Homo sapiens: one gene and its partner. The protein of the gene in region 2 binds, or shares a complex with, the protein of the main gene of each other region. Each region holds a gene or a part of one and is shown on either strand. Other genes may lie near its edges. The genes, in order: SMURF1 and SMAD1.

Region 1 (15,473 bases), on a different chromosome or scaffold from region 2:
CTCCGCAAATGCATTTTTGACATATTTTCAACATATTATGGGTTTATCAGAATGTAACCCCATTGTACATCAAGGAGCATCTGTACTTGTTAATGAATGAACAAAATGCCTTTCAGAAACCTCCAGAAGCAACCTCCTGACTCAAAGATTAAGGAAACAGTCAAGCCAACGAAGAACCAGCCGTCGGGGCGGGGAGAAAAACAACAAAATTAAGCAATGAAAGGTTTCCAGGTCAGGAACACCTGGGGATAAGAACAGGAGCCTGCACCCAGGTAAGCAGAGAGTGATGTCTGGTTTTGTTTAGAGAGGAGACTCTTTGAATAGGGGGGAAATACTAACGGGATTGGCAGAAGAATGGGGATTACTTGGGAGCATTAGAGACTGGATGGATTAATTCAGACCCAGGCATTCACTCTCTGTGACAATCATCTACAAATGGAAACAGCTGGATTGTGGCTCTACTGCTATTGCTTAAACATTGCTTATATTCTTGGGTCTTTCTTGAGGATAACTGAAAGAGCCGCAAGGTGCCATAGAAATGACCTAGGACCATCCTTTTATTTGACAGATGTGATGCCTTGAATCCTGCCCAGGAGAGACTCTGCTTTCACTAGGGTCATCCGAGGCAGGCAGGCAGGCAGGCAGGCGGGCAGGCAGGCAGGTATGTCTAGGCGCTCTAGGTAGAAGGCTCTGTTCCGAAGACTGTGACCTTAGGACAGGCACAAGGCTGCAGGGGATGGTAGCAATGGCCCAGAGCCTACTTTCCTTGGGACACACACACACACACACACACACACAGTATTAAAAGAATTTGTTCAAGTTGATTGATGAAGAATCAAATAAAAATAAAAAAGAACTTGTACATGAAAATGGGTAGTGGGGTCTGGGAGCGGTGGCTTAGGCCTGAAATCCCAGCACTTTGGGAGGCTGAAGCGGGCAGATCACCTGAGCTCAGAAGTTTGAGACCAGCCTGGCCAAAACAGCGAAACCCCATCTCTACCAAAAATACAAAAATTAGCTGGGTGTGGTGGCTAACGCCTGTAATCCCAGCTATACAGGAGGCTGAGACACGAGAATCACTTGAACCTGGGAGGTGGAGGTTGCAGTGAGCCAAGACCGTGCCACTGCACTCCAGCCTGGGTGACAGAGTGAGACCCTGTCTCAAAAAACAACAACAACAACAACAAGGTAGTGGGTAAAAAACAAGTTTGATAAACCTAGTTTTCCCTCTTTCTAATAATACCAGTTTATTTCTATAACATGCTAACAGAGAGGAGTTTGTTTGCTGGAGAAAGCGCATAATGAGCTTTTTCTGTGTGTGTGTGTGTGTGTGTGTGTGTGTGTTTTGAGACAGTGTCTAGCTCTGTCACCCAGGCTGTAGTGCAGTGGCCTGATCATAGCTCACTGCAGCCATGAACTCTGGGGCTCAAGTGATCCTCCCACCTCAGCCTCCCAGTACCTGGGACTACAGGCGCGCACCACCATGCCCAGCTAATTTTTGTATTTTTTGTAGAGATGGAGTCTCCCTATGTTGCCCAGGCTGGCCTCAAAGTCCTGGGCTCAAGTGATCCGCCCGCCTCGGCCTCCCAAAGTGCTGGGATTACAGGCTACAGCCACCGTACCCAGCCATGAGCTTTTGGTTCTAACCTGCAACCCCGGGAGAAGGGGAAATTTAGCAGAAGACATGGGAACACAAACCACAATGCCACTTTCTTGTTTGGTAAAATTGTATGCAGAATGGATAATAACAAACATCCGCCTCTCAACTTTATCCCTCCCTCTCATCTCGTTTTCCTTGTCCGTATATGGCACTTCTGCGATTCTGGCAACTTTGTTATGGGTCAGTGGAGCACACCCGTTGCACAGAACACACCTAAGGGCTTTGTCTCTTTGAGAAGTCCCTCCCTTGAACTTGCACGATCGAAAGCTCTTAACTGAAAAAAACTGGTATTGCACGCCTGTGTGCAAGGAGCTTGGTGTGGACACAGCCCACGGTTTCATGCAAACCACTCTTCAGTCACTCAGGAGCCCAGAGCCTCGCAGAGACAGGGGTCAAGACAGAGGGCGACCGCGCGCTGGGTCCCGGGGCCAGCTCTGCTCTCCCTTCCCGGGCTCGGGGCCAGACCCTCCCACCCACCGACCACAGGAAGGGTGAAGACCCCAACCCGCGGGATCCGGGCCCCGCGCGCCCGAGGCAGGCGTGCGGGCGACGTAGCAGCGCACCCCGCCCCGCCCCAGCGTACGTGGCGGGGGCGCGCACGCACGCAGGCGCGGGGGCGCGCAGGGCCGGGCCGGCACGGCGGCGGGCGCGCGCGCGGCTCGGAGAGGCGGCGGCAGCGGCGGAAGCGGCGAGGGCGGCGGGCGTCCGGCTCTGAGGTGGTGGAGGCGGCGGAGGCGGCGGCGGAGGCGGCGGCGGCTCGGGACTGGGCTCGGCTGGAAGCAGCGAGGGTCAGAGCGCCGCAGCAAGCGCCGATCTCCCGGCTCGACCATCCGCCTGCCGCCCGGACGCCTGGGCCGCGGAGTTTGTGTCCCGGCTCGGACCCCGGCGCCCAGCCCGGAGCCGTAACCTTGAGGCGGCGGCGGCGGGGCCGGGCCGGGCCGGGCTGGGGGGCGGTGGCGCTGGATCCGCGGCTGCCCGATCGTTGGCGGGAGATGTCGAACCCCGGGACACGCAGGAACGGCTCCAGCATCAAGATCCGTCTGACAGGTACGGCCGGCGGGAGGCCCACCCGCGCCCCGGCGCCCCCTCGCCCGCCCCGGAATTCCCCGCAGGGCGCCCTTGGAAGCGGCCCTCCCCCACGCCGGCCGTTGTCCCAGGACCTCGTCACCCCCTTCGGCGTGCGCCCCTCGCTTCTCCCTCCTGGCCCCGCCCCCTCGCCGTTGCCCGGCCCCGCCCCCTGGCCGCTCGCGCCCCCTCGGTCTCGCGTTCCCTCCCGTTCCCCCGCACCTGCCCCCTCGCATCTCCGTCCTGGCCCCGCCCCTCTCATTTCCATTCATGGCCACGCCCCTTGCATCTCCTTCCCTGGCCCCGCCCCTCGCTTCTCTTTTCCTGGCCCCGCCCCTTGCATCTCCTTCCAGGCCCTTTCCCCTCACCTCTCCCCGGCTCGGCCCCTTGCCTCTCGCTTCCCTTCCTCTCCCTAGCACCTGACCCCTCGCTTCTCCCCCCAGGCCCCGCCCCCTTGCCTTTCACCTCCATCCCTGTGGTCCTTTCTCTTCCCCACCTTTCCTCCCCAAACCTGACCCCGCCCATCTCTCTGGCCCCACCCCCTCGCTCCTCTCTGCTCCCGCCTCCTAACTTTCTGTCCCCGCCCCCTCGCTTCTCCCTGCGTCCAGCTCCCTCGCTTCTCTCTGGTCCCGCCTCCTCACTTCTTTCCTAGCCTGGGCCCTCACTTCTTCCTGGTCCCGCCTCCTCACTTCTTTCCTAGCATCGGCCCTCACTTCTTCCTGGTCCCGCCCCCTTGCTTCTCTCCTTTTTTTCTCCTCCGCCGTTTTTACCCCCTCCCTCCTTCTCCTCGCTTCCCATCCTCTCCGCCCACCTGCCCCCTCGCTTTTCCCTCCTGGCCTTGCCTCTGTTCCCCTGGTCCCATCCCTCACTTCTCACCACTTTCCCATCATCTCTCTTGCTTTCCTGTTTTCCCTCCCACCTGCTCCCTCCCCTCATCCTCCTGGTCTTTCCCACCACTTCCAAGCTATTTTGCTACCTCCCCTTCCACTTGCCCCCTTGCTTCTCCCCTCCTGCCCCCACCCACCCTCTTCTCACTCCCCCATCCTCTTTCGTTTCTCCCTCACCCCCCCACACCGTCCTCCTCCCTTCTTCCCCTAGCCCCGCCCCTCACTTTCAAGCCCCGCCCTCATTCCTGCCTAGCCCCGCCCCCTCGCTGCTGTCTGGCGAGGCCTCCACCCTTTCTTTCCTTCAGCCTGAAATTCCTCAATCCTATCTTGTAGCTGCTCCCAGTCCTGCTCTCTTCACTTCCCCCTGGTCCAGCCCTCTTCAGTCTCAGTCTGGGCCACTTCCTGTCTCTTAGGCCAGACCGCTAGCTACTTTTAACTCTGCTTCTTCAATTTTTACCTTTTCTGCATTTTGTTTCACCATCACCCCCACACTCAGCAACCCAGAGCGCCGTGAGGCTCTGATCCCTACTCCCACACTCACTGGAGGCTTTGGAAGCTGCCCACACGCAGGCTCCTTGATTCATTTTGTCTTCAATGAAAAGTCCGTGTTTCCTGGGTGGCTCTGTAGTGCCACCTTCAAGGGTGAGCGCAACGCTCTGCCGCGGGCCTGCGACTTGGTGGCGCGGATGTGATGCCAACCTGTTTCCCCCCGGGCTCCAGAGGTTCTGGACCAGGCTGCATCCTCGTCTTCCCTTTCTCACTCTCATTGGTACTACTCTCTTTCCAGTTTCAATTCATCCCTAAAGCAGGATGGCCGTGTTGCAAATGCGGCTCTGCTCCGGGACTTTCCAAACTCGAATATTTCCAGCTCTGGAAGGAAACTAAAAAGTTCATTCTAATCCCCGTCAGGGATTTTCCCCTGGATTTTTCTGTTCAGTGGCTCAGTCGGGTGAGAACTCCAAAGTCCTGGTTTGGTCAGGTCCTTTCAAAGAGAGAATGAGCGTTTTGAACACTTTATGGCAGATGCGCAGCCATAAAGTCATCGGTAAAATCCATGCAAACAATAGGTAATTTTTTTAAACTAAAATTTACTTTGAGAGCCCATAGTTGTTGCATGGCCCAACTTTTGTCTTAAGAGAAGGTTTTGTTTTTTTGTATAAAGATATCAAATAATGATTTGGACCCAAACCCAGACCCTGGTTTTGTAACGTAGGAGGTAGTTTCCTCTGGGATCTTTGCTTCTGGGGAAATACATTTCTTTATGCCAGGGCTGATAGGAAACGCTTCTCACTTTGTAGATACAATGTAGATACATTTTTATTTATGTGGTAAGATAAAAGTAACATTTTTGAGATTGTAATACTTGTAAAGCTTTTAACTTGGTTCTGATTTACAGCTCAGTCTGTAATTGACATCAGATTGGTTTCAGTTATCTTGTTAAAAGCGAAAGCAACTGATTTTGTGTTAGAAATATGATGAATGTTTTAGAAGGAATAGGTTTTAATTGAAATGTTTATGTCTGGTGTATGTATATTAATCAATCCTATTTGCCAAGCCTGAGCCTTGAAAGGGAGGACTTGGTTTCTCCTCCTACCAAATTATTTTTGGATTTAGGAATTTAGATTATCGAAGCAAGAATGCTTTGAGGAATTTTTGGATGACATTTGATAGGGAAGGATCAGGTGATGAGTGTTGTTTCTGAAACACCTTTTCCCTTTCCCTTTCCCTTTCAGTAGATGTTATGAATGGTTTGAGAGGATTTGTGAGTGTGATCATCCTTACAATAGGATTGCGGTTTAGCGGTAATGGTACACATGCAATGCCAGTACGTGGAACCTTAGTTTACCTCGAAAGGTTTGAACTAGAAGTTTGTTGACGGTGGAATAGGTTTTAGTCTCATCTTTCTGGTTAAGGGAAGTTTGAATTCTCACTTCTGGGATGTTGAGAAGCAATCTTTCAAAATTTGAATACTTTTGTTACAGGTTTCAGAGTTTATTTCCATGTTTGTTATTTGGAAAAAAAAAAAAGACTGTTAAAAATGAGGGATATTTCAACCAGTCAATGAATAGACACAGAGCGAAATTCAGTGCAAAGATAGTGAAGATGGCCTGGCGCCGTGGCTCACGCCTGAATCCCAGCACTTTGGGAGGCTGAGGCAGATCACGAGGTCAGGAGGTTGAGACCATCCTGGCTAACACGGTGAAACCCCGTCTCTACTAGAAATACAAAAAATTAGCTGGGCGCGGTGGCTCACACCTGTAATCTCAGCACTTTGGGAGGCTGAGGTGGGGCGGATCACGAGGTCAGGAGATTGAGACCATCCTGACTAACACAGTGAAACCTCGTCTCTAGTAGAAATACAAAAAATTAGCTGGGTGTGGTGGCGGGCGCCTGTAGTCCCAGCTACTGGGTAGGCTGAGGCAGGAGAATGGCTTGAACCTGGGAGGTGGAGCTTGCAGTGAACCGAGATTGTGCCACTGCACTTCAGCCTGGGCAACAGAGTGAGACTCTGTCTCAAAAAAAAAAAAAAAAAAAAAAAGGATACTGAAGATACTACATTTAGAACTTTGGGGTCCACGATTCTATTTGGGGGTGAATAGGGCATTAGATTTACAGTTAGGAGACCTAGATTCTAGACAGATTTCTCATTAACTACATGTTACGGAACAAGTTATTTAACCTTTTTGGGTCTCAGTTTCTTTATATATCAAATGAGATTTCAGCTCCATTATAATACTCTTTGATCCTCCTTCTCACAGGATATATCAATTTAGCTACCTACTTATTTCAAATTACTGTTGGGCACTTGGGCTTAGTGGTATTCTTAATCCTGATATTCAGAAAATTGTGTTGGAGTGTAGCACATGTGTTTGATTTATGCCAAGCATTAATTTTGTGTATTGATTACATTTATGACTTTATTTCTTCATGTGGGATTGTTTTTGAAAACTGTTGGGTAATATGTTGAACTGCTTTGGCAACCTGGTCTAAACAGTAGAAGAATATTTGAGCCTTTGTATTTAAAATAATAACATTTTAACGAATGTTTTTGTGGTATTTTAGTAGGAAAATAGTTTTTAAATGGTTTCAGTAGGTTTAGGGGCATAATATATCCAGAATCAAGTGATCTTTTGTTAAAGAGCATTATCTTGTAGTCATTGGAGTTCACTGGCAAATCAAACACTTTAGAAACATTTTGATTGAAAAATCAAGCAGGATTTGCAAAAACTTTGTTCTTATCTGGTACACAAATGAATCCCAGACACATTGTTTAGGCCACTTTGGGTAAAAGAATGGAATTCAGGGTTCTACAATGCTCTTCAAGAAAATTAAATTTTATTGTAATGTCAACCAATTAGTTGAAATACAAGTGCCTAAACTTTTTTGTGCTTTTATGCATTGAAATACTCTCAGATATCCTGGTGTTTTTATATCTTTTGGAGCATGACTGCATATTGTGAAGTAAGAAAAACTCTAATTCCAAACAGAGAGGAACAAAGAGACTTTCCTTGATAGCATGTGGAAATATGAGGTTGTTTTTAAAATTGTAGCTTGTGGGATGTAAGGGTGACTTGTGTTTTGGCATTCAGATGGTGCAACTGTGAGTGAAATAGTTGTGGTAATAGCTGTTGATGATGTTGGTTGATGAATTACAGGTGTCTCAATTGATTCAAAATAGTTAAGTCTCTCAAGAAAGATTAAGAAAATTGTTAAGACTGTTGACTTTGTCAATTTGTACCAGCTAAGAACCTCACTTATGTGAGGCAGGCAAAACTTTTGTTTCAAAAACCATATAACACAGTTGCTGTGATAAGATGGAATAAGTGGTCAGTTTTTAGCTCCCTTTGCATTTACATTTTCCTTAGGGTCTGCCTCAAGTTTAGGAAGATACAGTTAAGGCAGTTCTTTGAGATGAATTATTGGAAGGTGTAGGATGGGTTAGAACAAATGCTGTTGCAAAACTTGAATTGCAATTATACTTTAAGAAGAATCACATTCTGCCAAATAGAGGTTTTTGTCATTGATTTTGTGATTTGATCACATTTGTGTTGCCTTTTAGAACAACTTTCTTTTTTCAAATCCATTTTTTTTTCCTTTTAATCTTCTTGGCCCACCCAACTGACTTTAGACATGAAATCTTTCATATGCTTTATTTCTATCTCCATTTTTACAGTAGTTGTGATTTATCAAACTAGGATTTTTAACTTCAAGTCCATCTGTCAGAGTTTAAAACCTCTAGTCTTGCAGTTACAAAAGTCCTTTCTGAATGTTGGGTTTTTCTTTCTCTTCCACACATTTTCATTTTCTCGGTTCAGTCACAATGTCAGGTTCTAGTGTGGAAAATTGGGTGAAAGAAAGGTTTTGGAGGCTGTGTTATTTATGAAATATTTCCTCATGGATTAAGAAAGAAAAAAAGACAAAACGACAAATAGTGTTTCAATATCACCTCAGTGATCCAGTTAACTAGACTGGCTGTTTTGTACAACATCGTGGGCACTGGTTAACAGTTAAAATAGCTGAATTGTGCGTTTTATTCAGTGGTTCAAAAAAGCCTCAAATGGATGAAATAACTTGATATCTTCGCCATGCTCTGATTTGCTGGGTAAGACAGCTAACTTTTAGGATGCTTATTTGGATCAATTTTTTATAATTTCAAAACCATTTTAGAGGCTAATTTTTTTTTAAACAAGGAATATACAATTTTTTTTTTTTGTCACTGAACAAGTTTTAAATTACTGGTTTGTTATTTTGTAAGTGAATTTGTAAGTGAAAGCCTCCAACTTAAATTAGCTTCTTGTCCAGGGAACTCATTCTGACTGACTAAAGTCCCTAAGGCCTTTCTAGTTAAAGGAAAGCCATGGAGCTATGTTTAAAAAACAAAAGCACATAGCTATGGGGCTTGGGCATATCTTCTTTTTAAAATGTCACTATTACTGTTTTGTCTCCAGATGCAATTTAATCCATTTAGATATTTAAACCAAGTGGAATGTTGTTTCCACATTTCTGGACTAATGGGGGAAAAAACACCCTCATATTGTTTTAAAACAAGGCTTAAATAATGTATAATCAGCGCGTCTGGTGACGCGCCCCACTCTGTAATTCCAGCTGTGTTCACCTCCACTGCAGCTGAAAGGAATTCTAATTGGCTGAGGAATGTCGGCAACATCGTTTATCACTGAGCAGGAACCTATCCTCCTGGCTGCTGGGTGATGCATTTCAGATGTTTTAAGCTCCGGAGCCCAACTTGCAGCTTGCTTTCAGGAGTCTGGAGGAGCATGTCACGAAGCTGCAGATTGTAGATGGCAGCCTGCGTTCTTTGTATGTTGGGCATCCGCTGAGTTCTCTAAAGGGCATGATGCTTTCCTGTGGTTCCAACACTGGACTGGGGATCAGAAGGTCTGAATTTGATTTCTAATTCACACAAGTACCACAATGAAGAAAGGGGAGGGGGTGCATAGGATTATGATCTTTTCATGATTCAGTTTTCCTATCTTTAATGCCAGAGATCTGTCTTTTTAGAGCACAAAAGGACCTGCTAGAGATGGATTAAATATTTTAATGAGTAGTTATGAATTATTTATAGAGTAGCACAGTATTAATACAGTCATAGATTCCTGTTATGTCTTATTCCTAAATAGCCAGGTAAATAATAAAGCTAATAACGTACTTTGACATTGAAGAAAATCTATAGAACCGGTTAATAAACATGGAAAAATAATACAATGAATTGATAAATTATGTATTCAGAAATTCCTTAGAGAAATAGTGTTAGAAGCCAAAACCAGTATTATCTTTATTTTTATTTTATGTTTTTCCCAGGCCAGGTAATGTGCCATCGGACAGTATCATGTTTATTTTTTGTTTTGTTTGGAGATGGGGTCTCACTCTGTTACCCAGACTGGGGTGCAGTGGCACCATAACAGCTCACTGCAGCCTCGACTTCTTGGGCTCCAGTGATCCTCCCACCTCAGCCTCCCGAGTAGCTGAGACCACAGGCATGTGCCACCACGGCTGGCTAATCATTGTAGTTTTGGTAGAGATGGGGTTTCGCCCTGTTGCCCGGCTGGTCTTGAATTCCTGAGCTCAAGCAATCCACCTGCCTCAGCCTCCCAAAGTACGTGGATTACAGGCATGAGCCACTGCACCTAGCCAGCATCATCTTTAAATGATGAAATTGTGGAAACATTCCCATTAAAATCAGGAACAATGCAGGGATGTACACTGTCAAAATAGTTATTATTAATAACTAGAGAAAGACATCAGAAAGCAGGAAACAAAATTGCTGTTATTTATAGACGTTATGATATATCTTTAAAAGCCCAAAAGATCAGCTGAAAAACACTTATAAACAATAAAAAACTTTAGCTGGATGGAAAATTTCTCCATGGCAAAAAATAGGATAAAATCAACATGCAAAGACAAACTAGGAACAACAATCTGTAATGGATACGAAAATGAAAGTCTGGTTTTCCTAATATATAAAGAGCCTTCAAAATCAATTAGGAAAAGGCCAGTACCTAATAGGCAAAGAATATGGACAATTCACAGAAAAGAAAATGGAAATGGATTTGAAACATGTGAAAAGACAACCCTATTTTCTCTCTTCTTCTTTCCTTTTCTTCTTTAGAGATGGGGTCTTGCTCTGTCGCCCAGGCTAGGCTAGAGTACACTGGCGTGATCATAGCTCACTGCAGCCTGGAACTCCTGGGCTCAAGCGATCATCAGCTTCCTGAGTAGCTGGGACTGCAAGTATATGCCGCTGTGCCCTGTTCTCTCTTATGCCCATTTTCTTTCTCTAAAAATTTATTTTTAATTGATAATCAGCCCTATTCATACTAAACAAACTACAAATTAAAAGTAAGAATGAAACAATTTTTCATCTAGAAGAGTGGCAGATCAAAGAGATTGAAAATCTTCTGTGATGAGACAAGAGTGTGGAAAAACAGGTCTTTTACTCTAGTGGTTGAGAATATAAATTGATAGAGTAGGTACCAAGAGCAGTTTGGCACTGTCTATCAGATCATAAATGTTTATGCTCTTTGATCTAGCAATTCTGCATGTAGGACTTTTTTCTTATGGGTGTTTTCACACATTTATGTAAAGTCCGGTGTGTAAAATCATTGCAGCATTGTTTGAAATTATAAAAGACTGAAATCAATGTGAATGTGTATCAGCAGGGACTAGTTAAGTAAATTATCGTGTATTCCCAATGATGTGTAGCTGTAACATAATAAGATAGTGTTTTATATTCTGATATGGAACATTCTCCAAGATATATTATTGAGTGGGGGGAAAAAGCATGATTCAAAACAGAGGCTAGTGTGTGTACTATTTGAATAATAAAACAAGAAATAAAAATAAAGGGGGAAATCTATAGATAGGTCTGTATAGAATACGACTGAAAGATTTTGACTGTTGATTTCCTTTGAAGAGATTCTCCTGTTCTCCTCTTCAGAGGAAAGAGAGAGGAGAGAGGGAGAGAGGAGAGAAAAGAGAGAAGAGAGGGTGACTTTTCATTATATGCCTTTTGTAATATTTAATCTCCTCCCTTTTCTCACCCCCTTGAGCATGTATTGCTTTTCAACAATTAAAAAGATTAAAAAGCTCTTAAATAGATAAGAATTTCTTAGAGCAACTAGTAAGTACACTAACTGCCAATTGTTTTGAAATGTAGACATTCTGAAAAATCAAAATGATTGTGCCGAATGTATTTTAAAAGGCTAAAATATTATAGCATTTCAAAGTACATACTCATATTTATAAGGACTTCCTCACTAGGAAGATTCCTGGGTTCTACAGAATAAAATTCTTGGCTACTTGTCTTATAGCTCTGAACAGACTTATTTTCCCAGAGAGTATGTTTATTATGTAATAGCGAGTTGCCTGACCCCCCAAAAAGCTTGTTCTATCATATTAAAATAAGGCAAAATGATTACTTTCAGATTAAGAAATTTGGACTCTAGATCTTGTTTATATAGTGAGTTCTTTAAAAAACTGAGGTCTTGGTTCTGAATAATAGTGGTTTACATAATTTATTTAGAATGTCATTTGGGGTTATCTCTGACCTATTTTTATAAAATAATCTCATCTTTAAAATAGGAGTAAAATGCTCATTTGCATAAGCCAGTAATAATAATTTAGTATTTTTCCAAGTATTTATAGTCAATGTGTTTGCCATGAACTTTTTTAAGGGATTGTTTTTAATTTTAGAAGTGCTTTAAAAAGCAATATTGGCATCTGGCTCTGTAGAAGTAGAAAACATGGTAACTTCAATGTGATATATTTGCTTTTTTCCCCTCTTAGGTCTTTGGGGTAAAAAAAATCCAAAGTTTACTCAATTTTATTTCTACATATATTACCTACAAATTATAGAGGTGAGACCTGCTTGCTGCCTGTTCATACCTGTCAGTGATACTAATACCTCCCGTCTGTACAGTGTTTCATAGTTTCCAAAGGGTTCTCGCGTGGTTCCTCACTTGAGCCTGGTGAGGAAATACCTGTAAACATGGGTAGAAGTTTTAGTCCCTTGTAAAACTCTGGTATAATATCAAAACCAGGAAATTGTTCACAGATTCTAAGGATTGGGGAAAAGAGAAAAATAAACAAATTGCTCAGGAGTAGAATTTGCAAAAAAAAACGAAACAAAACCAAAAAACTCTGGAAATAAGGCACGTTTAGCCTTACAGAGCGAGACCCTGTCTCAAAAAAAAAAAAAAAAAAAAGTGGGTGGAGAAGCACTTTTCCTGATCTAGATCAAGAAATAGAATATTGCTGGTGCTTGGAATGTCCCTACAATCCTGAAAATAGCTCATTCTCACTTTCTACCTCCCTCAGCCGCACCCCCCTGGCAAAGATAACCACAGTCCTGACTTGTAACAGCCTGTTTTTGAACTTTGTATTAATGGAATCTTACTGCATGCAACTGGTTTCTTTTGTTCAATGTTATTTTTGTGAGATTTATCCGTATTGTTATGTGTGGTTGTACGTCAGTCATTCTCTTTGCTGTTCAATATCCCATTATGGGCATATACCATAATTTATCCCTTTATCTGTTGATGGGCAGAGTCCTTTCTAGTTTTGGCTTTTAAGACTAGTGCTGTTTGGAATTTTCAGGTATATGTCTTTTGGTGAGTATTTGCATACACTTCTGTTGGGTGTATACTCAGGAGTAGAGTCACTGGACTGTGGAATAGGCATATGTTCAACTGTAATGAAACTTGCCAAATGCTTTTCCGAAGTGGTTATACCAATTTACATTTTCCACCAGTGGCGTATGAGAGTTCCAGGTGCTCCTTTGCCAATCTGCGTGTTTTCTTTTTCATTTTAACCCTTTCCTTGAGTGTGGATTGGTGTCACATATTGTGGTTCTACTTTCTTTTTTCTCTAATCTATACCTTAAATGGCAGCCTTAGAGACCTTTTTTTTTTCTTTTTTAATTTTGAAGTAATGATAGATTCACAGGAGATGGGAGAGAAATGTACCGGGAGGTCCTGTGTACCCTTCACTCAGCCTCCCCCAATTTTAGTGTTTTGTATAACTGTGGCATGTCAAAACCAGGAACTTGTTCATGGGTTCTAACGATAGGGAAAAAGTAAGGGCAAAATAATGCAAGCAAAAAGACCCGGGAAACTAACTGTTTACATTGGTGCAATCCAGAGCTTAGTCAGATTTCACTAGCTCCGCGTGCACTGCGTGTGGGTGGGGTGTGTGTGTGTGTAGCAGTCTATGCAGTTTGATCCCATGTACAAATTCATATCACCACCATTGCAATCAAGATGACCAGCTGCACCACCACCCCAGCCTCCTTGGAGCTATCCCTTTCTAGCCGCATCCACCCATCCCCAGTCCCTGGGACCCTGGCAACCACTAAACTGTCACCCCCAAATCTTTTAAGAGCATAAATCAGATCATGTCATTTCCTTCCTTAAAGCCCTCCAGCAGCTCCCTACTCAGAATAAAATCAAACTCCCTCTGTGATCCTGCCATATTCCTCTCTGGCAGCCTCTGTGCCAGGTTCTGCCTTATTCTCCACCCCAGTCCTCAAATGTGGCGAGTTTAATCCTGCTTAAGGGCTTTTGCATGAATTATTCCTCTGTGTGTGTGTGTGTGTGTGTGTGTGTCCGTGTGTCTGTGTGATGTTATAATACTCTTCCTCTTGACTTCTCAATGGCTTCTTCCTGTCATTCAGGCCTTCAGCCTAAATAAATATCATCACCTCAGGGATACCCTCCCTGACCATCCCTTCATAGTCCCTCCCTCACTCACGATCAGGCAGCCTATTCTGCTGTCTTCATAGCACTCACCACTTCATGGTATTTTTGTTTGGTTATTCTCCCATCATCCATCTACCAATGTCCAATCAATTTTTATTTTCTGTCTCTGCTCTTGGTAGTCAAGTTCCGTGAAGCTAGGGTCCTTGCTGTCTGTTTACTTCTGTATCCCCTTCAACACTGCTTGGCACCTGCTGGTGCTCACAAATACCTGGTGAATGAGAGAATTAATGCCCTCCTTGTTTATTGGGTCTCCTGGTCGCCTCTGAGTTGGGCGTCGGAGGACACCTCTCCTGGAGGCAGCATTGCGTTCATAGCCACTTCTTGTTGATATGAGCAGGGATTAGAGATCAAGCAATTACAGGTTGTTGTCAGCCAGGCTTGGGGTTTCTTTGACTATGTGATACCCTAAAAGGCAAGTCTACTCTATCTTGGGCTTCTGGGCCATTCCAGGGGCTTGAACCAAAGCCCGAAATTTTAATTCTGGAATTTGGCCCAGCTTTGTAGCTTTTGGTTTCCAGGTCTTTTCCTTAGCCTCTCCCTCAGGGCTGGCGGGGATAACTGGTTGGGCTGGAGAGACATCATTCATTTGCCCCTTGCCCAAGCTTTGCGGTTGCATCTTGAATAACGTTTCCCATTTTCAGGCTGTGAATACTGGACCTGAGTGCTTGGGAGAGACCTGGGGAAGCCTTCTTTTGCTCACCCTACCCCACAGCCTTATCTCCTGCTAAGTCTTCCCTCCCTTTCTTTCTTCATCCTATCTCTTGGTTCCCCTAGATTGCATTTTGTAGCAGAAAGGGCCTCTTTTCCTCCCTCTTCACTGCATTTTCTTTGAGACAGGATCTTGTTCTGTCGCCCAGGCTGGAGTACAATGGCACAGTCATAGCCCACTGCAGCCTCAAACTCCTGGGCTCAAGTCATCCCCACCTCAGCATGAGCCACCATGCCCAGCTAATTTTTAAACTTTTTGTAGAGACAGGGTCTCACTATATTGCCCAGGCTTGTCCAGAACTCCTGGCTTCAAGCGATCCTCCCATCTTGGTCTCCCAAAGTACTAGGATTACAGGCAAGAACCACCCACCTACCCATTTCCTTGATTCTTTCCTACCAAGTCCCTTAGTGTTCCTTGTAGTCTTGGTGGTTGCATCAGACCACAGTCTGATTGTTTCTTTCCCTGATAATAAAGATAGTTAAATTCTCAGGCCGGGTGAGGAGGGTATTCATTGATTTTTCACCCTGCCTCCTTTCTTCAGCTAATTTCCACATTTTTAATTCTGTCTTTTATGTACAATATCGCACTTCCTAATGTTGTTGTTGTTTAAAAGCAGGATACCTTCAGATGTAAGTAGCAGAAAACCTAGGTTAAATTAGCTCAATAGAGAGAATTTTAGTGACTTCACTGAAAAGCCCAAGTCATTCCAATGGCAAAGCAAGGACCTGGTTTCTCTCTATATCTCAGTGTTTTGACCTCAGCACTATTCATGACCATCTCTTCCCCTTGTGCTCAAAAGCTCCATGGCTGTTTGCTTGCAGCTTTAAATCCAGCAGAAAAGTTAAAAGTCTGCTTCTTCAACAGCTCAGTCCTGGGGT
Region 2 (16,037 bases):
AGGAGTAAGATGGTATCTCACTGTGGTTTTAATTTGCATCTCCCTGATAATTAGTGATGTTGAGCATTTTTTTCATGTTTGTTGGTCATTTGTGTATCTTCTTTTGAGAATTGTCTGCTTATATTTATGTCCTTAACCCACTTTTTGATGGGATTATTATTATTATTATTGTTTGCTGATTTATTTGAGTTCCTCGTAGATTCTGGATATTAGTCCTTTGTCGGAGGCATAGTTTGCAAATATTTTCTCCCACTCTGTGGGTTGTCTGTTTACTCTGCTTTTGTTAGGTGAATTTAGGAGCAACATTTGAACAACATATATAAAATGATCGAATTAATAGAGATCAGATAAGTGAAGAGAATGCTGTCAGTCTATATCAGGAATCCAGTAGCATTAATATTCTCTGTGATGTTTTGGGGAATAAGGACGTTGAAGTATTGAAGTTCCACGTGGCAGGAAAGTGAGTGAGAGAATAAATCATCCTCAAAGGTCTGTGTCTAAATACTACAAATACTTACTGACTTCACCAATACTACAAATACACTGACAATATAGCACAAGACAATAATTCCATTAAGCAAAGAGTATAGAATGGCCCATGTATTAGTCTGTTCTCACACTGCTGTAAAGAACTTCTTGAGACTGGGTAATTTATGAAGAAAAGTGGTTTAATTGACTCGCAGTTCTGCAAGCTTAACAGGAAGCATGGCTAAGAGGTCTCAGGAAACTTATAATCATGGTAAAAGGTGAAGGGAAAGCAAGCCACATCTTACCATGGTAGAGCAGGAGAGAGAAAGCCTATAGGTGCTACAATTTTAAACCATCACACCTCGTGTGAACTCACTCATTATTATGAGAACAGCATGGGGGAAATCTGCCCCCATGATTCAATCACCTCCTACCTGGTCTCTCCCCTGACATGTGGGGATTACAATTCAACATGAGATTTGGGTGGGGACACAGAGCCAAACAATATCATTCTGCCCCTGGCCCCTCCCAAATCTCATGTCCTTCTCACATTGCAAAATACAATTATCCCTTCTCCATAGTCCCCCAAAGTTTTAACTTGTTCCAGCATTAACTCAAAAGCTCAAGTCCAAAGTCTCATCTGAGACAAGGCAGGTCCCTTCTGCCTATAAGCCTGTAAAGTAAAAAAAAGTTAGTTACTTCCAAGATACAATGGGGATAGAGAAATTGTATAAATGCTCCCATTCCAAATGGGAGAAATGGGCCAAAACAAAGGTGCTACAGGCCCCCATGCAAGTTCAAAACCCAGCAGGGCAGTCATTAAATCTTAAAGCTCCAAAATAATCTCCTTTGACTCCATGTCTCACATCCAGGTTACATTGATGCAAGGGGTGGGCTTCCAAGTCCTTTGGCAGCTCCTGTGGCTCTGCAACTCCAATGCCCCTGTGGCTCTGCAGTGTACAGCCCCCTTTAGCTGCATTCACAGGCTGGCATTGAGTGCCTGCAGCTTTTCCAGGTGCACAGTGCAAGCAGTTGGTGAATCTACCATTCTGGGGTCTGGAAGATGACAACCCTCTTCTCACAGCTCTACTATGCAATGCCCCAGTAGGGACTCCATTTGAGGGCTCCAATCCCACATTTCCCCTCTGTACTGCCCTAGTAGAGGCTCTCCATGAGGACTCCACCTTGGCAGCACACTTCTGCCTGGACATCCAGGCATTTCCGTACATTATCTGAAATCTAGGCAGAGGCTCCCAAAGCTCAGCTCTTGTCATCTATGCGCCTGCAGGCCCAACACCACGTGGAAGCTGCCAAAGCCTGGGCCTTGCACCCTCCGAAGCAACAGCCCAAGCTGTATCTTGGCTCCTTTTTGCCATGGCTGGAGCTGGAGGGGCTGGGTTGCAGGGCATCATGTCCCAAAGTGGCACAGAGCAGCAGGGCCCTGGGCATGGCCCACAAAACCTTTTTTCCCTCGTAGGCCTCCAGGCCTGGAATGGGAGGGGCTGCTGCAAAGGTATCTTACATGCCCTGGAGACATTTTCCCCATTGTCTTGGCTGTTAACATTTGGTTTGTCTTTACTTATGCAAATTTCTGCAGCCAGCTTGAATTTGTCCCCAGAAAATGGCTCTTTTTTTTTTTCAACCACATGGTCAGGCTGCAAATTTTCCAAACTTTTATGCTCTGTTTCCCTTTTAAACATAAGTTCCAATTTCAGACCATCTCTTTGTGAACACATACGACTGTACGCTGTGAGGAGCAGCCAGACCACATCTTGAGTGCTTTGCTGCTTAGAAATTTCTTCTGCCAGATACCTTAAATCATCTCTCTCAAGTTCAAAGTTCCATAGATCTCTACAGCAAGGGCACAATGCTATCAGTCTTTTAGCTAAAGAATAGCAAGAGTGACCTTTACTGTAGTTCCCAATAACTTTCTCATTTCTATCTGAGCTCAACTCAGCCTGGACTTCACTACCCATATCACTATTAGCATTTTGGTCAAAATCATTCAACAAGTCTCCGTGAAGTTCCAAACTTTCCCACATCTTCCTGTCTTCTGTGCGCCAAATTGTTCCAACCTCTGCCCATTAGCCAGTTCCAAAGTTGCCTCCACATTTTCAGGTATCTATATAGTAATTCCCCACTTTCCTGGTACCAATTTTCTGTATTAGTCCATTCTCACACTGCTATAAAGAACTACCTGAGACTGGATAATTTATGAAGAAAACAGGTTTAACTGACTCAGTTCTGCAGGCTAAACAGGAAGCAAGGCTAGGAGGCCTCAGAAAACTTACAATTATGGTGGAAGTTGAAGGGGAAACCAAGCACGTCTTATTATTGTGGAGCAGGAGAGAGAGCGAGGTGGGGGAAGTGCTATACTTTTAAACTATCATATCTCATGAGAACTGACTCACTATCACCAGAACAGCACGGGGGAAATCTGCCCCCATGATCCAATCACCTCCCACCAGGTCACTCCCCTGACACATGGGGATTACAGTTCAATATGAGATTTGGGTGGGGACAGAGAGCCAAACCAAATCACCCCACAAATTTAAGAAGCTGGAAATATAAGTTCTACTGCCATCATAATGTTTACCATAGAATTTTCACATGGAACTTTGTAATGTATAGACTGTTACAAAACTCTCAGGAAAAGGGCTGACAACTTTTTATTAATTCCTACAATTTATAATTAGATCTGAATTTCAGACTTGGGGGCAATAATGAGAACAATTACTAGCTGTAATTAAGAAAAAATACCAATTTGTATTTGACCGCAACAGTTGTATTAGAGATTTATTCTTTCAGCAAATATTTGAGGGTCTGCCATGACAGGTCTGTGCAAACTTTGGGCTTGGAGATGGGAACACAAACTAGATACAGCTCCCACCCACATATTACTTAGAAGAGCAGTGGGGTTTTCTCACTGGATATTCAATAATTTGACTAAATACATTCATAATTACAGACAGCTATAAGTTCTTTGGAGCAAAGGGTGTGATGAGAGAATAAAGGATTTCAACAACAACAACATTTTTTTCTGAGACAGAGTCTTGCTCTTTGGCCCAGGCTGGAGTACAGTGGCATCCTCACAGCTCACTGCAGACTTGACCTTCCAGGCTCAATCCATCCTCCCACCTTAGCCTCCTGAGTAACTAGGACTACAGGCACATACCACCACACCTGGCTAATTTTTTGTATTTTTTGTAGAGATGGGGTTTCACCATGTTGCCCAGGCTGGTCTCGAACTCCTGACCCCCACCTCGGCCTCCCAAAGTGCTGGAATTACAGGCATCAGCCACCATGCCTGGCCAGCGTTCCTTTTAATATGAAAAATAACACACCAATGATCCTTGGCAGGCTCATTCCAGGAAAACTGAGTCACTTAAATTCCCTGAGGGAGCTGAACTATAAATCATTACATTTATTTTTCTATTGAGTAGAATCATCTCTTAAAACAGGTTTTTGGATTTACATTTTGCCTATATAAAATTTGCAGCCAATTTTAAGGACTCGTCTTATTATAAGTGATTAGTAGCTGATTTTTTCCTGATAAACTGATTAGCATAATTAGTTTGCCTTCAGTTCCTTAATATCTCCTTTTCTGGAAGGATCTTGTCCTCCTCTCTACCTCAGCCATCCGCCATCTCTGGTCACACCCCTACATCTTGGCATTGCTCAAAACTGCCCCAGCATCATGATTTCAATTTCAAGTATCTCATTCCCAGACTGCTCCCCAGCTTTTGGGAAAGGCTCCCAACTCCAGTAACTCATGGACCACACTAGGAGCTTCACTCGGTGGATCCTATCATCTTTCCAACATTTCACATTACTATATGTTCTCGCCTTCCTCCTATCACAGACCCCCGACAGTCACTCTATTGCCTATAGCTTCTGCTGTCTGATCCCCTTCCCTTCCCTGACATACACCTGCAAAACCCCAGCCCTAGTTAAACTCAGCTCTGTCCCCTCAGGTTAACCGAGGCTGGAGAAAAACCCACAGCCATGCTGACTGGTCTTACTTTAAATTCATGGCCACTAGGCTGGGTGTAGTGGCTCATGCCTGTAATCCCAGCACTTTGGGAGGCTGAGGCAGGTGGATCACCTGAGGTCAGGAGTTTGAGACCAGCCTGGCCAACATGGTGATACCCCGTCTCTACTGAAAATACAAAAATTAGCCGGGCATGCTGGTGCATGCCTGTAATCCCACTTACTAGGGAGGCTGAGGCAGGAGAATCACTTGAACCTGGGAGGCAGAGGTTGCAGTGAGCTGAGATCATGACAGTGAGCCAAGATTGTGACAATGCACTCCAGCCTGGGTGACTGAGCAAGACTCCATCTCAAAAAATTAAAAAAAAAAATTAATTAATTAATGGCCGCTAACCTCAAATGGACACTTAATAGTAGCAATCTTACCACATTTCCACAGTTCATTCACTCTCAAACCCTACCAGATGACTTAGATATTACTCCTCTCTCTTCCAACCTCCAGCATCTCTTCAATCCCACCATTCTCGGGAAGCAGGTTCCCGGGCAATTTCACTAAGATGAGAGAGTGGTGAGAAGAGACCATCCCTGCGTTCTCACCTCTGCAAGCAAGCACCAGCTTGTGTGCATCTGGGTCCACACACTCTGCCTTCCCTCCAGTCACTAGCTTTTCCTACATCACTGCACTGTCCCCAACCCTGCCCCCCAGCTTTTCAGTGGATGTGTAAAGTAGACTCAGCTTCTAGGTCTTTACACTTGCTCTTCCTTTTGCTTGGGAGGTTGGGAACTCATCCCTCAGAGTGTGTACTGTGCTTCCTTCCCTTCCTTCAGGACCTCTTGCAGTGAGGTTTCCTCTGCCCCTTTAGAAATAGTCATCTCTCCCATTCTCAATCCCTCTTCCCCTGTTTTTTCCATCACTTGTACCACTACCTAGCATATTTGCGTATTTATTTATTTATTTATTTATTTTTTTTTTTGAGATGGAGTCTCGCTCTGTCGCCCAGGCTGGAGTGCAGCGGCACGATCTCGGCTCACTGCAACCTCTGCCTCCCGGGTTCAAGTGATTCTCCTGCCTCAGCCTCCCAAGTAGCGGGGACTACAGGCACATGCCACCATGCCCGGCTAATTTTTTTTTTTTTTTGTATTTTTAGTAGAGATGGAGTTTCACCATGCTGGCCAGACTGGTTTTGAACTCCTGACCTCGTGATCCATCCACCTCGGTCTCCCAAAGTGCTGGGATTACAGGTGTGAGCCACCACGTCTGGCCGTGTATTTATTTATTATCTGTCTTCCTTAATGAGGGCAGGGATTTTTTTCTGCTTGCCACCATATCCCCTGCTAGAACAGTGCTTCACTTACTCATTCATTCAACAGGTATTTAATATGCTCCTGTTAAATACCAGGCACTGCTCAGGTGCTGAGATTATAGCAATGAACACAGAAGACCAAAAATCCTGCTCTTTTGGCTAAATAATACGGAGACATTTGAGTGAAGACTTGAGGGAGATGAAGGAGTGAGCCATGTGGACATCTGTGGGAAGAGCTGTCCAGGGAGTGCTATGGTTTGAATGCATTCCCCAAAGTTTATATATTGTAAACTTAATCCCCAGCGCAACAGTGTTGAGAGGTGAGAACTTCAAGAGGTGATTATGTCATGAGGACTGTTAAATTAAGTTTAGGCTAAAGCTGCCTCCATATATATATATATACGTATATATACATATGTACATATGTATATACATATATATACACACACATATATATATATATATATATATTTTTTTTTTTTTTTTTTTGAGACGGAGTTTTGCTCTTGTTGCCCAGGCTGGAGTACAATGGCATGATATTGGCTCACCGCAACCTCCGCTTGCCGGGTTCAACTGATTCTCCTGCCTCAGTCTCCCGAGTAGCTGGGATTACAGGCGTGAGCTACCACGCCCGGCCCATACATATTTTAAGTTAGGCCTAAAGGTTTCTCTGTACACAGCAAACTGTAACCTAACTGGATATGCAAACAGACTGTAGCCAACTCTTGTACCAATCACAGAGTTTTGGTCAATCACAGGCAGCCAACTGTTCAAACTGTGTTAAAATAAAGCAAATATTTAGCTCTAACCAATCCAGTTTTTTCTGTACCTCACTCCATTTTCTGTCACTTTTCTTTCTCTGCCCATAAACATCATCTGACCCTGTGGCAGCCCCAGAGTTGCTCTGAAACTATTCTGGTTCTGGGGGCTGCTCAGTTCTCAAATTGCTCTTTGCTCAATTAAACTCTGTTAAATTTAATTTGCCTAAAGTTTTTCTTTTAACAGGGATCTGTCCTCATGAATGGATTAATGGCATTATGGGAGTGCGGTTTGGTATCTCAGGAGGGGATTGCTGATATAAGCATGAGTTTGGCCCTTTTCTACCCTTCCTCTCATGTTCTCTCTCTTGCTATGTGATGCCTTCTGCTATGTTGTGATGAAGGAAGAAGGCCCTCACCAGATGCAGCCCCTTGATTTTGGATTTCTCAGCCCCCAGAACCATGAGCTAAATTAACTTTTATTGTGTATAAACTGCCCAGCTGGTGGTTGTATTGGTCCATTTTCATACTGCTATGAAGAAATACCCAAGACTGGGTAATTTATAAAGAAAACGTGGTTTAGGGCTGGGTACGGTGGCTCACGCCTGTAATCCCAGCACTTTGAGAGGCCAAGGCAGGTGGATCACCTGAGCTCAGGAGTTTGAGACCAGCCTGGCTAACACCACAAAACCCCGTCTCTACTAAAAAATACAAAAAAAGATTAGCCAGGCGTGGTGGTGCATGCCTGTAGTCCTAGCTACTTGGGAGGCCAAGGCAGGAGAATTGCTTGAACCCTGGAGGCAGAGGTTGCAGTGAGCTGAGGTTGCATCACTGCATTCCAGCCTGGGTGACAGAGTGAGATTCTGTCTCAAAAAAAAAAGGTTTAATGGACTCACAGTTTTACACGGCTGGGGAAGCCTCACAATCATGGCAGAAGGTGAAGGAGGAGCAAAGGCACATCTTACGTGGCAGCAGGCAAGAGGGCGTGTGCAGGGAAACTGCCCTTTATAAAACCGTCAGATTCTCATGAGACTTATTCACAATCACGAGAACAGCATGGGAAGAACCCACCCCCATGATTCGATTACCTCCCACCAGGTCCCTTCTATGACACATGGAGGTTATGGGAGCTACAATTCAAGATGAGATTTGGGTGGGGATACATAGCCAAACTCTATCAGTGGTATTCTATTACAGCAACACAAAATGAACTCAGAAAGGGAGGGAACAGCTAGCACATAGATACTGAGGTGAGAATGTGCCCAGATTGTTCCAGAAGAGTGAGGATGCCAGTGTGACTTGGGGAAGTGAGCAAGAGGAAGAGTAGAAGTGCAGGTCAGAGTGCTAAAGGAGGGGAAGGAAAGATTATGTAGAGTCTTGTGCTTATTATGGGAACTTTTATTCTGAGTGAAATGAGGACCCAAGGGAGGATTTTTTAAAAATTTAATAAAATGATATTAATATACAGTCCATATTTAGGTTTTTATAATGGTCTCATCAATGTCCTTTTAAAAAGAATATCCAAATTTTTATTATCATTTAAGGAAATAATTTGCACAATGGGCAAAATCAAATTTTATTGCATACATAATAATATTAATAGTTATCATTTAAGACTACTAGGACTGCACTAAGAAAGGCCATCTAGGCTGGGCGCGGTGGGTCATGCCTGTAATCCCAGAACTTTGAGAGGCTGAGACGGGTGGATCACTTGAGGCCAGGAGTTTGAGACCAGCCTGGCCAAAATGGTGAAACCCCGTCTCTACTTAGATGGGCGTGGTGGTGTGTATCTGTAGTCCCAGCTACTCGAGAGGTTGAGGCAAGAGAATTGCTTGAACCCGGGAGGCAGAGGTTGCAGTAAGCCGAGATCGTGCCATTGCACTCCAGCCTGGGCGACCGAGCGAGACTCCGTCTCAAAATTAAATAAATGCCATTTTTGATTTTTTTAAAAATTAACGACTTTAAAATGACAGTTTATAGCTCCTCCTCCCCATTCAGGATCCAATCAAGGTCATATACTGCATTTCATTGTCATGCTTTTTTTTTAATAGCTTGAGGTAAAATTCACATACCAAATGATTGACCCATTTAAAGTGTGCAATTTAATGGCTTTTGGTATATGCACAGAGTTGTGCAACCATCACCAGAAACTAGTTTTAGAACAATTTTGTCACCCCATAACCTTTAGCTGTCACTCCCCAGGTTCCTCATTTCCCCAACCCTATGCAAACCACCAATCTACTTTCTGTCTCCATAGCCTTGCCTACTCTGAGCATTTCACATATGTGGAAGAATACAATGTGTGGTCTGTCTTCTTTCCCTTCACGTTTTGAAAGGTTATCCATGTAGCATGCATCAGTATCAGTACTTCATTCCTTTTTATGGCTGAATAATGTTCTCTTGTATGGGATACTTTATACTATTTATCAAGGGAGGGTTTTCAACAGAGGAGTGGCCTGATCCGAGTGGCATTTAACAAGGTTCACTTTCCTGTTGTTCTAAGGAGCAGAGAATGATCAACTGCGTCAAACGCTGCTTTTAGGGAAAATAAGATGAGGCCCACGAATTGACCAGTAAGTGCTCAAATAGGTTAAGGGAAAAAGGAATTTAATTAGAAGACATATTCTGATATACATTGCTGGGAGTGATTTTTTTTTTTTTTTTTTTGCTTCATGTGAAATTTATTCCTCAAAAAAAAATCATTTTTTCTAAACGTAACTCAACATTATAGTAATTATGCAAGATTTTATGCAGCTTCAAGAGTTAGCCAAGAGAAAAGTTGACTCTTGCAAGAAGATATTTTCAATGTCTATGCAGATCAGGTAGGTAAGAGTTAAGTGCGGGGGAGTTGGCATCATCTAAAAGACTGTAGAAATTGGACCAAAAATGTGGAGTTCTAAAGCAGTATCTCCTTATGGCATGCCATTATTTGGAGCAACAAGGTTACCTACTCGAATCACTGGATCCTGAGTTGACACAAAACGCATCTGTTGACTCAGGGTTTGTATAACCACGTGCAGTATTTACTAGGCTATCCAATTCTGGGTACGTACAACTTCTGGGGCCTGCAAATTATTGGAGAGTGAGTGAGGGGCAACGAAAGATAGACATAAAAGGGCGCGTCTCGAAAGGTAACTGTCAACATGCACTCCACGTTTATAGAACGATTCAGTGGGCGCGGTGGAAGCGTTAATGAACATTTCAGAAAATAAACATATGGAACATCGAAATTCACTTGCAGATAATGGACTAAGTCCGCTCCACCGGGACTAAAAAGGCAGGGTTAGGAAAGCCTGAACGCCGCCACACTGTTTTTTCTCCAGGAAGAAACGGGGCGTGGGGCTGCCGGTAGAAGGGGGTGGCTCCGGCCGCTCCCCCGCGCCGTCCTCCGGCCCCGGCCGCGCTGCGCTCACGCCGGCCGGGCCGGGAATTTGGAGAGGATCCCTGGTCGCGCGGCAGCGGCGGCGGCGCGCGGGTGAGCGGGTGAGCGTGTGAGCGGGCGGGCGGGCAGGCGAGTGCGCCGGGTATTGGCAGCTGAGGAGTGGAGGCTGGGCAGCTCCGACTCCCTGACGCCAGCGCGACCAGATCAATCCAGGCTCCAGGAGAAAGCAGGCGGGCGGGCGGAGAAAGGAGAGGCCGAGCGGCTCAACCCGGGCCGAGGCTCGGGGAGCGGAGAGTGGCGCAGCGCCCGGCCGTCCGGACCCGGGCCGCGAGACCCCGCTCGCCCGGCCACTCGTGCTCCCACACGGACGGGCGCGCCGCCAACCCGGTAAAACGAAACAGACCCGAACCGAACTTTCCCTTCATGCCGCGTCCCAGCCCTCCCCTCGGCGCCCCGGGCTTTCCAGCGCCGCCGCCGCCGTCTCTGCACGCGTGGGGCCGCCGCGGTCGTGCTGGGCTGGGGGCGCGGGCAGCGGCGGGAAGGGGGCTCTTTCTGCGCGGGGCGGGCCGCGACCCCCCCCCCCCATGATGGCGCCTCCCGTCTGCTCGGAGGAGCGAACCTGCTACCACGTCTTCTCGCGCCCAGCCCGCCGGGCTCCCCTGGTGTCTTTGTTGGGTCTTCTGCTGTGGGAAGCCCAGTTCCCGGGCCCCCGAGCCTCGGCTCCCGGGCCTGACCGCGCTGGGATCTCCCCGGCCGCGCTCCCCTTCCGCGCGCTCCTCACATCTCTCCCGTGCTGCCGCCGGGCCGAGGCCCGTTCGCGTGGCCCGCGGACCCATTGTGTCCCCCGCGCCGGCGGGGCGACCCCTGCGGGAGCTGGAGGACGACCGCTGGCGCTGCTCTCCAAGGCGCCTGGTGGAGCGGGTCTCGCGGGCGGGGGACCCCGGCGCCCCGGGCCCCTCCACATCCCGCACGGGTTTTCTTCTCGGCCCCAGCAAGCCTCTTTGGGGTCGAGGTCAAGGAAAGTTCGCACCGAGATCCCCTCTAATTTATTCAAAGGTTTGGCGGCGGCGCGTAATTTTTTCCCCCTCTTCCGCCTACACCCGCTGCGTCTCCTGGTGTCTCGTTCCTTTCCCTTTACCGGAGTCGATTGCCTCACTGCATGTGTATTCGTGAGTTCGCGGTTGAACAACTGTTCCTTTACTCTGCTCCCTGTCTTTGTTAGTGTTTCTCGGGGTTGTTTCTGTAGGAAGGTGGGGGTGGTGGGCGTGAGAGACAGATGTGGGCTTGTTTTTCTAGTTGCTGAAACTGTATGAAGGCTTTAAAGGGAGAACGTTTTCTTGATGTGCTTTAGGAGGGGAGGAGGAACAAATGCCTGCCAGATCTCACAGCTACAGTAGCTGAGCTTTTGTTTATTTTGAAGAGCATGCAATTTTTAAATACACGGTGCAAGATAACCAGTAAAGGCGCGTTCCTTCTGAAAATTGAGGCCGGTCTCAGAACCATCTCCTGAGAAAGCATCCTTTTCGTGAGTGCTGAGACAACTGTCCTTTTTCTCTGCCCTCCCCCCTCTTTTCTTTCCATTGTATCTGAAGTTTCAAAGTACGTGGAATGATACAGAAGTTGCATGATTTCTGTTATTTCTTCCTGTTGCTGAAACTCTCAGCCGCTAAATCTCAGAATGCCTCTATTTCAGAACATCTCTGGGTCTAATTGCCTGTTGTGGATAACTTGCCCACACCTCAGTAACACAATGAGAAAACTGTTCCCTGCCCATGTTGATTTTTCAAATTGTTTGTAATTACTTTAAATTGTATTGAAGGTAGGTGGACCGTGTTAAAAAAGAATCGGAACAGAAGTGTTCACTGCCCCAGCATTTTCAATTGGTATAAATATTGTTGCATCAGTGTTATTCTGATGTAGGTGCCAGATCTAAATATGCTGTACTGATTAAAGTGTTTGTTCTGCCCTCTCCCACTCTCTTTCCCATTTGCAATTATTTGCTATTTCTGTGCAGGTGGTGTATCATTGGTGTAATACTGCAGTTCTTAGGAAGGTGTAGCTAGGGTCGTGAGAGATGATTTTTCTGGAGGTGGGTGATGCCAGAGCCTCTAGAGGATCCAGGCAGGATCGAGTTTCTTCTGAGGGTAGGGATTTGTCCTTGATTTAGTTTTGACCCCTACAACCATAGGTATGTAACCAAATACATTTTACCTCTTGCAGTATCCTTTGGTTTCGTATCCTTGAAGAGCTGATGACCTTTGTGTTTTAGAGAAATGACAATTTTTAGGCAATTAAAGACATTGGCCTCTTACACTTCTTGGAATTTTATGTTATTTTTACTAAGTTCATTAAGGCATTAAGAGGAAGTTGTCACATTTTCTCAACTACGTTTATTACATTTATTAGTTAAAAACTAAATTTCACTTTGTAATTTTGATTTCTAGCAATTCTGGGTTAAATATTAAATCTAATAACCTAGTAGATTGGAAAAAGAAGTAGCTTGGGTATAGTAATTAGACTAGCATGTTTAAGCTGCAGTAGCCTACATAATCAAGGCCAAGTGTGTGTGTATAAAAGATCTCATTTGTGTAGTCTTACAAGGCTAATGGAGGCATCACTGAGGCTTTATAAATAATGTAAGTTGGGTATAATGTAGAGTCTCCAGAGACGGCAGAGAAAGCATCATTACCAGCCTTTTCAACCTGCTTGAGATCTTAAATTGATTTACAGCACTGAACTGGTGCAAAATGATACATCAGGATGACATGGGGTCAGCCTGTAAAAGTCTATGATGTCAGCCTATTAGTTCAGTCATCATAATTAAACCATATTACAGGGGTAGCTAAGCAGGAGTCTGGCGTTATACTTCAGATATGGGTGGTACATGGGTTTTGTTTATAGTGGAAAGGCTGAGATGGCCAGGGATACCAGTGTGTGTGAAAGAGGGAAAAGGCTTACAGAACTATGAATTTCTGTAGAAAAATTTAAGATAAATGCAGAGATATTCAATCTGAATTGTATAAGTAGCTTTTCATTTGGTAGAGGAGAAACAGATGCTTTAGGGATGCTGATAAGGACCTTTGCAGCTCTGATATGTGTACTGAATGCTTCATGTGAGTTTGAATTTAACTTGGCCTTAGGGACCTTATAAAATATCAGTGGACCACATACTTAACTTTGATCCTTTTATTACCCCTGAATTTTCACTGTATTGATATCTACTGACATGTTATTTCTTTAACTAGTCAAACTTACCAGGCCTATACCAGAAACAAAGATATTTGAATTGAACATATAAACAGTTCAGGAAAAGAAGATCCTTATTTTGCTTAAGTTTCTGACAATCCTTATTTAGCTTATGGATTATCTAGGGCTCTGCTATCCTAGCCATAGTCACACGTAGCTTTTTTTGAAATTTTATTATTCTATTTTTTTGAGACAGGGTCTCTCTGTGTTACCCAGGCTGGAGTGCAGTGGCACGATCATGGCTCACTGCAGCCTCGACCTCCCAGGCCCAGGCAGTCCTCCCACTTCAGCCTCCCAAGTTGCTGGGACTACAGGCACTGCCACCATGTCTGCCTGACTAATTTGTTTTTGTATTTCTTGTAGAGACAGGGTTTCGTCATGTTGCCCAGGCTGGTCTTGAACTCCTGGGCTCAAGCTGTTCTCCCGCCTCGGCCTCCCAAAGTGTTGGGGTTACAGGTGTGAGCCACTGCACTCGGCTACTTATAGCTATTTAAGTTTAAATTAAAATTAAATAAAAATTCGTTTTCTCAGCAGTAGCCGCATTTCAAGTGCTTAGTAGCTGCTTGTGGTTAGTGGCTGCCATACTGGACAGCGTGTATATAGAATAGTTCCATCATCACAGGAGGTTCTGCTAGCCATTGCTGCCCCAGGACCTTTACCTCTTCTCACTTGTTAACTCTACTAATGATTTGTGGAGTCAAAGATGGAAAGACATATATAAACTAATTTTATCACTAACTAGCTGTTCTTTTTAAAATAAAACACAATTTGGAAGGGACAGTTGAAGCTGCTGGATAAAAGGAGTTTGACTTTTCTGTAGATCTTATTTATTATTAGTGTCATCGATTCTAATTTGGTTTAGAGCCTTAGAGAGAAGAAATAATTGTAGCTAACCCTTTTTTCTGAATTTTTACTGTATGTATGCCAGGCATTGTTTATAATACCCATATCTCATTTAAGCCTCAAAACTTCCATAAGTACTATTGTTGTCACATTTTACAGGTAAAGAAACTGAGGACAGAATGATTCAGTATCTTGCTTCAGGAGGTACAGTGAATGATTATGATTTCTAATCTTACCTGGGATATGATCGAGGCAGTCCAACTCTAGAAACTCCATCTTAACTATGTTTTTTGGTCTTTCGTTCAGAAGACCCAAATCATCATTGTTCTGCTGTGCTTTACTATGCCAGTATAGACATGACTTGGCTTGTGTATTTTGTAGGTCTTTAAATAAATTTACCTTCTATTGTGCCTTTCTGGGCTATCTTCTGTCGTTCTTTTGTAAGTGTTTAAGAAAGGAAAAATAATGCTCATCTAAGCAGCACATAATTTGAAGAATAAATCTGGCATGAAAATAATGCATTTCAAAGCCAAATTAGTTTTATCTCTGCTTTTCTGCATAATTCTTGTCACTTTCCTCTTGCATTTTCTTACATAATCACAAACTGATATTAAGTTAGGAGGAAAGTTGTAGTAATTCAGTTTGTCTGTCTTACCAAAATTAGTCTATCTTCCCTGAGCTGTTAAACACTGTAAGAATAGTAATTGCAAATTCATTGGGGATTTTTAAAAAAACATTCAACATCTATTTTTGTAAATGTTTTACAAGGTCAGGGCTGTTTAAGAATCGATGAAACTATGGATCTTGTATCTTCTTATTCCCACCTTCCTATCCCAAAATGCTTATATGTCATGGTGAGTTAATGTGTACACTTAACTATCCAAATCTCATGGTCTTTCGGGTGAAATATGTCCATGGGACTGCCAAGTGCTTTCATAAACATTAAGATTTGTAATTTCCTTTACAGAGAATAGAGATACTTAGTATTAAAAGTTGCTTTAAAGATTTTCTAATCTGGTTGGTTCATATCAAGGTGAACAGTCTGAAGTCCAGAGAAGGTAACTGACATCCAAAGTTACCTGTCTAGTGATTGGAAAAGGGAAAGCCAAGATCTGGACTCCTCTTGGCATTAAGTGCCCTTTTGTTTTCAGGTTTTTTTTCTCCCTACCACGCTCACGATATTTCTGAGGCTTTGGTGTAAGCATATCCAGTGTAATTTAGGGAAGGGAGGAAAGAATTTTTTGGCCTGTTAGCAACTTTTTATACCTAACATTGTTTGAGCTAAGTAGGAATCAAATCTGACAACCAGAGAGAAATGCTTATTTTCTACATATTAAAATTGATTCTTTTTCATTCTGGAGATGGAAAAGAAAAGCCCTATATCTAATTTAATCAATGAGACCTTATTAGAAAATGGGAGATCCAAGATTGCACAAAGTTCAAATTAAAGCAGGCAACTCTGACATCTAGCAAAATATACGAATCTCCTCTTGACTCTCGAAAACAAATCACATTCCTAACCAAAAGCTAAAGTTTGGGGTATTTAGGGAGCTAGGGAGTCCTAGGGAGAGAATTGGACAGGTCTGAGGAGAAAAAGGATAATTTAAATATAAAAAAGTGGAAAAAATCGGTTTTAAGTCATAGCATGTCTTTGAGGTTGATGAAATGTTCTGCTACTTCTATATGTGGTTTTACTCTTTGGTACCAAGATTTTAGGACATACTTTGATAACAAATAGGGGCATGTCCTCTTTGCCCCAATCTGAAACCTCTTGACCCTTTATTTTCCTTTCCTGCTGTTATCTGGTAGTACAAATATTCAGTCTAATCTGTTGATCTGGCATCTGATTTGCAGCAAAAATACCTGAAGTATTTTCATCACTCTGCTGTAGCCACCTTTAAAAAGAAAAGGAAAGAGAAGAAAAAGGCAGAGCCAAATAGTATTAATGTAATTGCTTAAAATCTAAATTAAAATACTCATCTTGCTCTGCGTTATTAAGATGGTGTCAGTTTTAGAGGTGCAGGGCTAGTCCTATATGCAAAACAG

The links.
Region 1: the proteins of SMAD1 (region 2) and SMURF1 are in contact, whole or in part, in an NMR structure (PDB 2LB1), measured with the Homo sapiens proteins. Residues at the interface, in NP_001003688.1 of Homo sapiens: Asp221, Thr222, Pro223, Pro224, Pro225, Ala226, Tyr227, Leu228, Pro229, Pro230, Glu231, Asp232; in NP_065162.1 of Homo sapiens: Glu313, Val314, Arg315, Ser316, Arg321, Tyr323, Val325, Asp326, His327, Arg330, Thr331, Thr332, Gln333, Phe334.

What each region holds. Positions count from the first base shown.
Region 1 is NC_000007.14:99,130,960-99,146,432, reverse strand, and holds the start of SMURF1 (E3 ubiquitin-protein ligase SMURF1), read left to right. Parts: upstream 1-2,324; 5' UTR 2,325-2,652; coding exon 2,653-2,707; intron 2,708-15,473. UniProt on the Homo sapiens protein: E3 ubiquitin-protein ligase that acts as a negative regulator of BMP signaling pathway. Mediates ubiquitination and degradation of SMAD1 and SMAD5, 2 receptor-regulated SMADs specific for the BMP pathway.
Region 2 is NC_000004.12:145,471,750-145,487,786, forward strand, and holds the start of SMAD1 (mothers against decapentaplegic homolog 1), read left to right. Parts: upstream 1-10,103; 5' UTR 10,104-10,289; intron 10,290-10,584; exon of another isoform or gene 10,585-11,427; intron 11,428-11,476; exon of another isoform or gene 11,477-13,015; intron 13,016-16,037. UniProt on the Homo sapiens protein: Transcriptional modulator that plays a role in various cellular processes, including embryonic development, cell differentiation, and tissue homeostasis.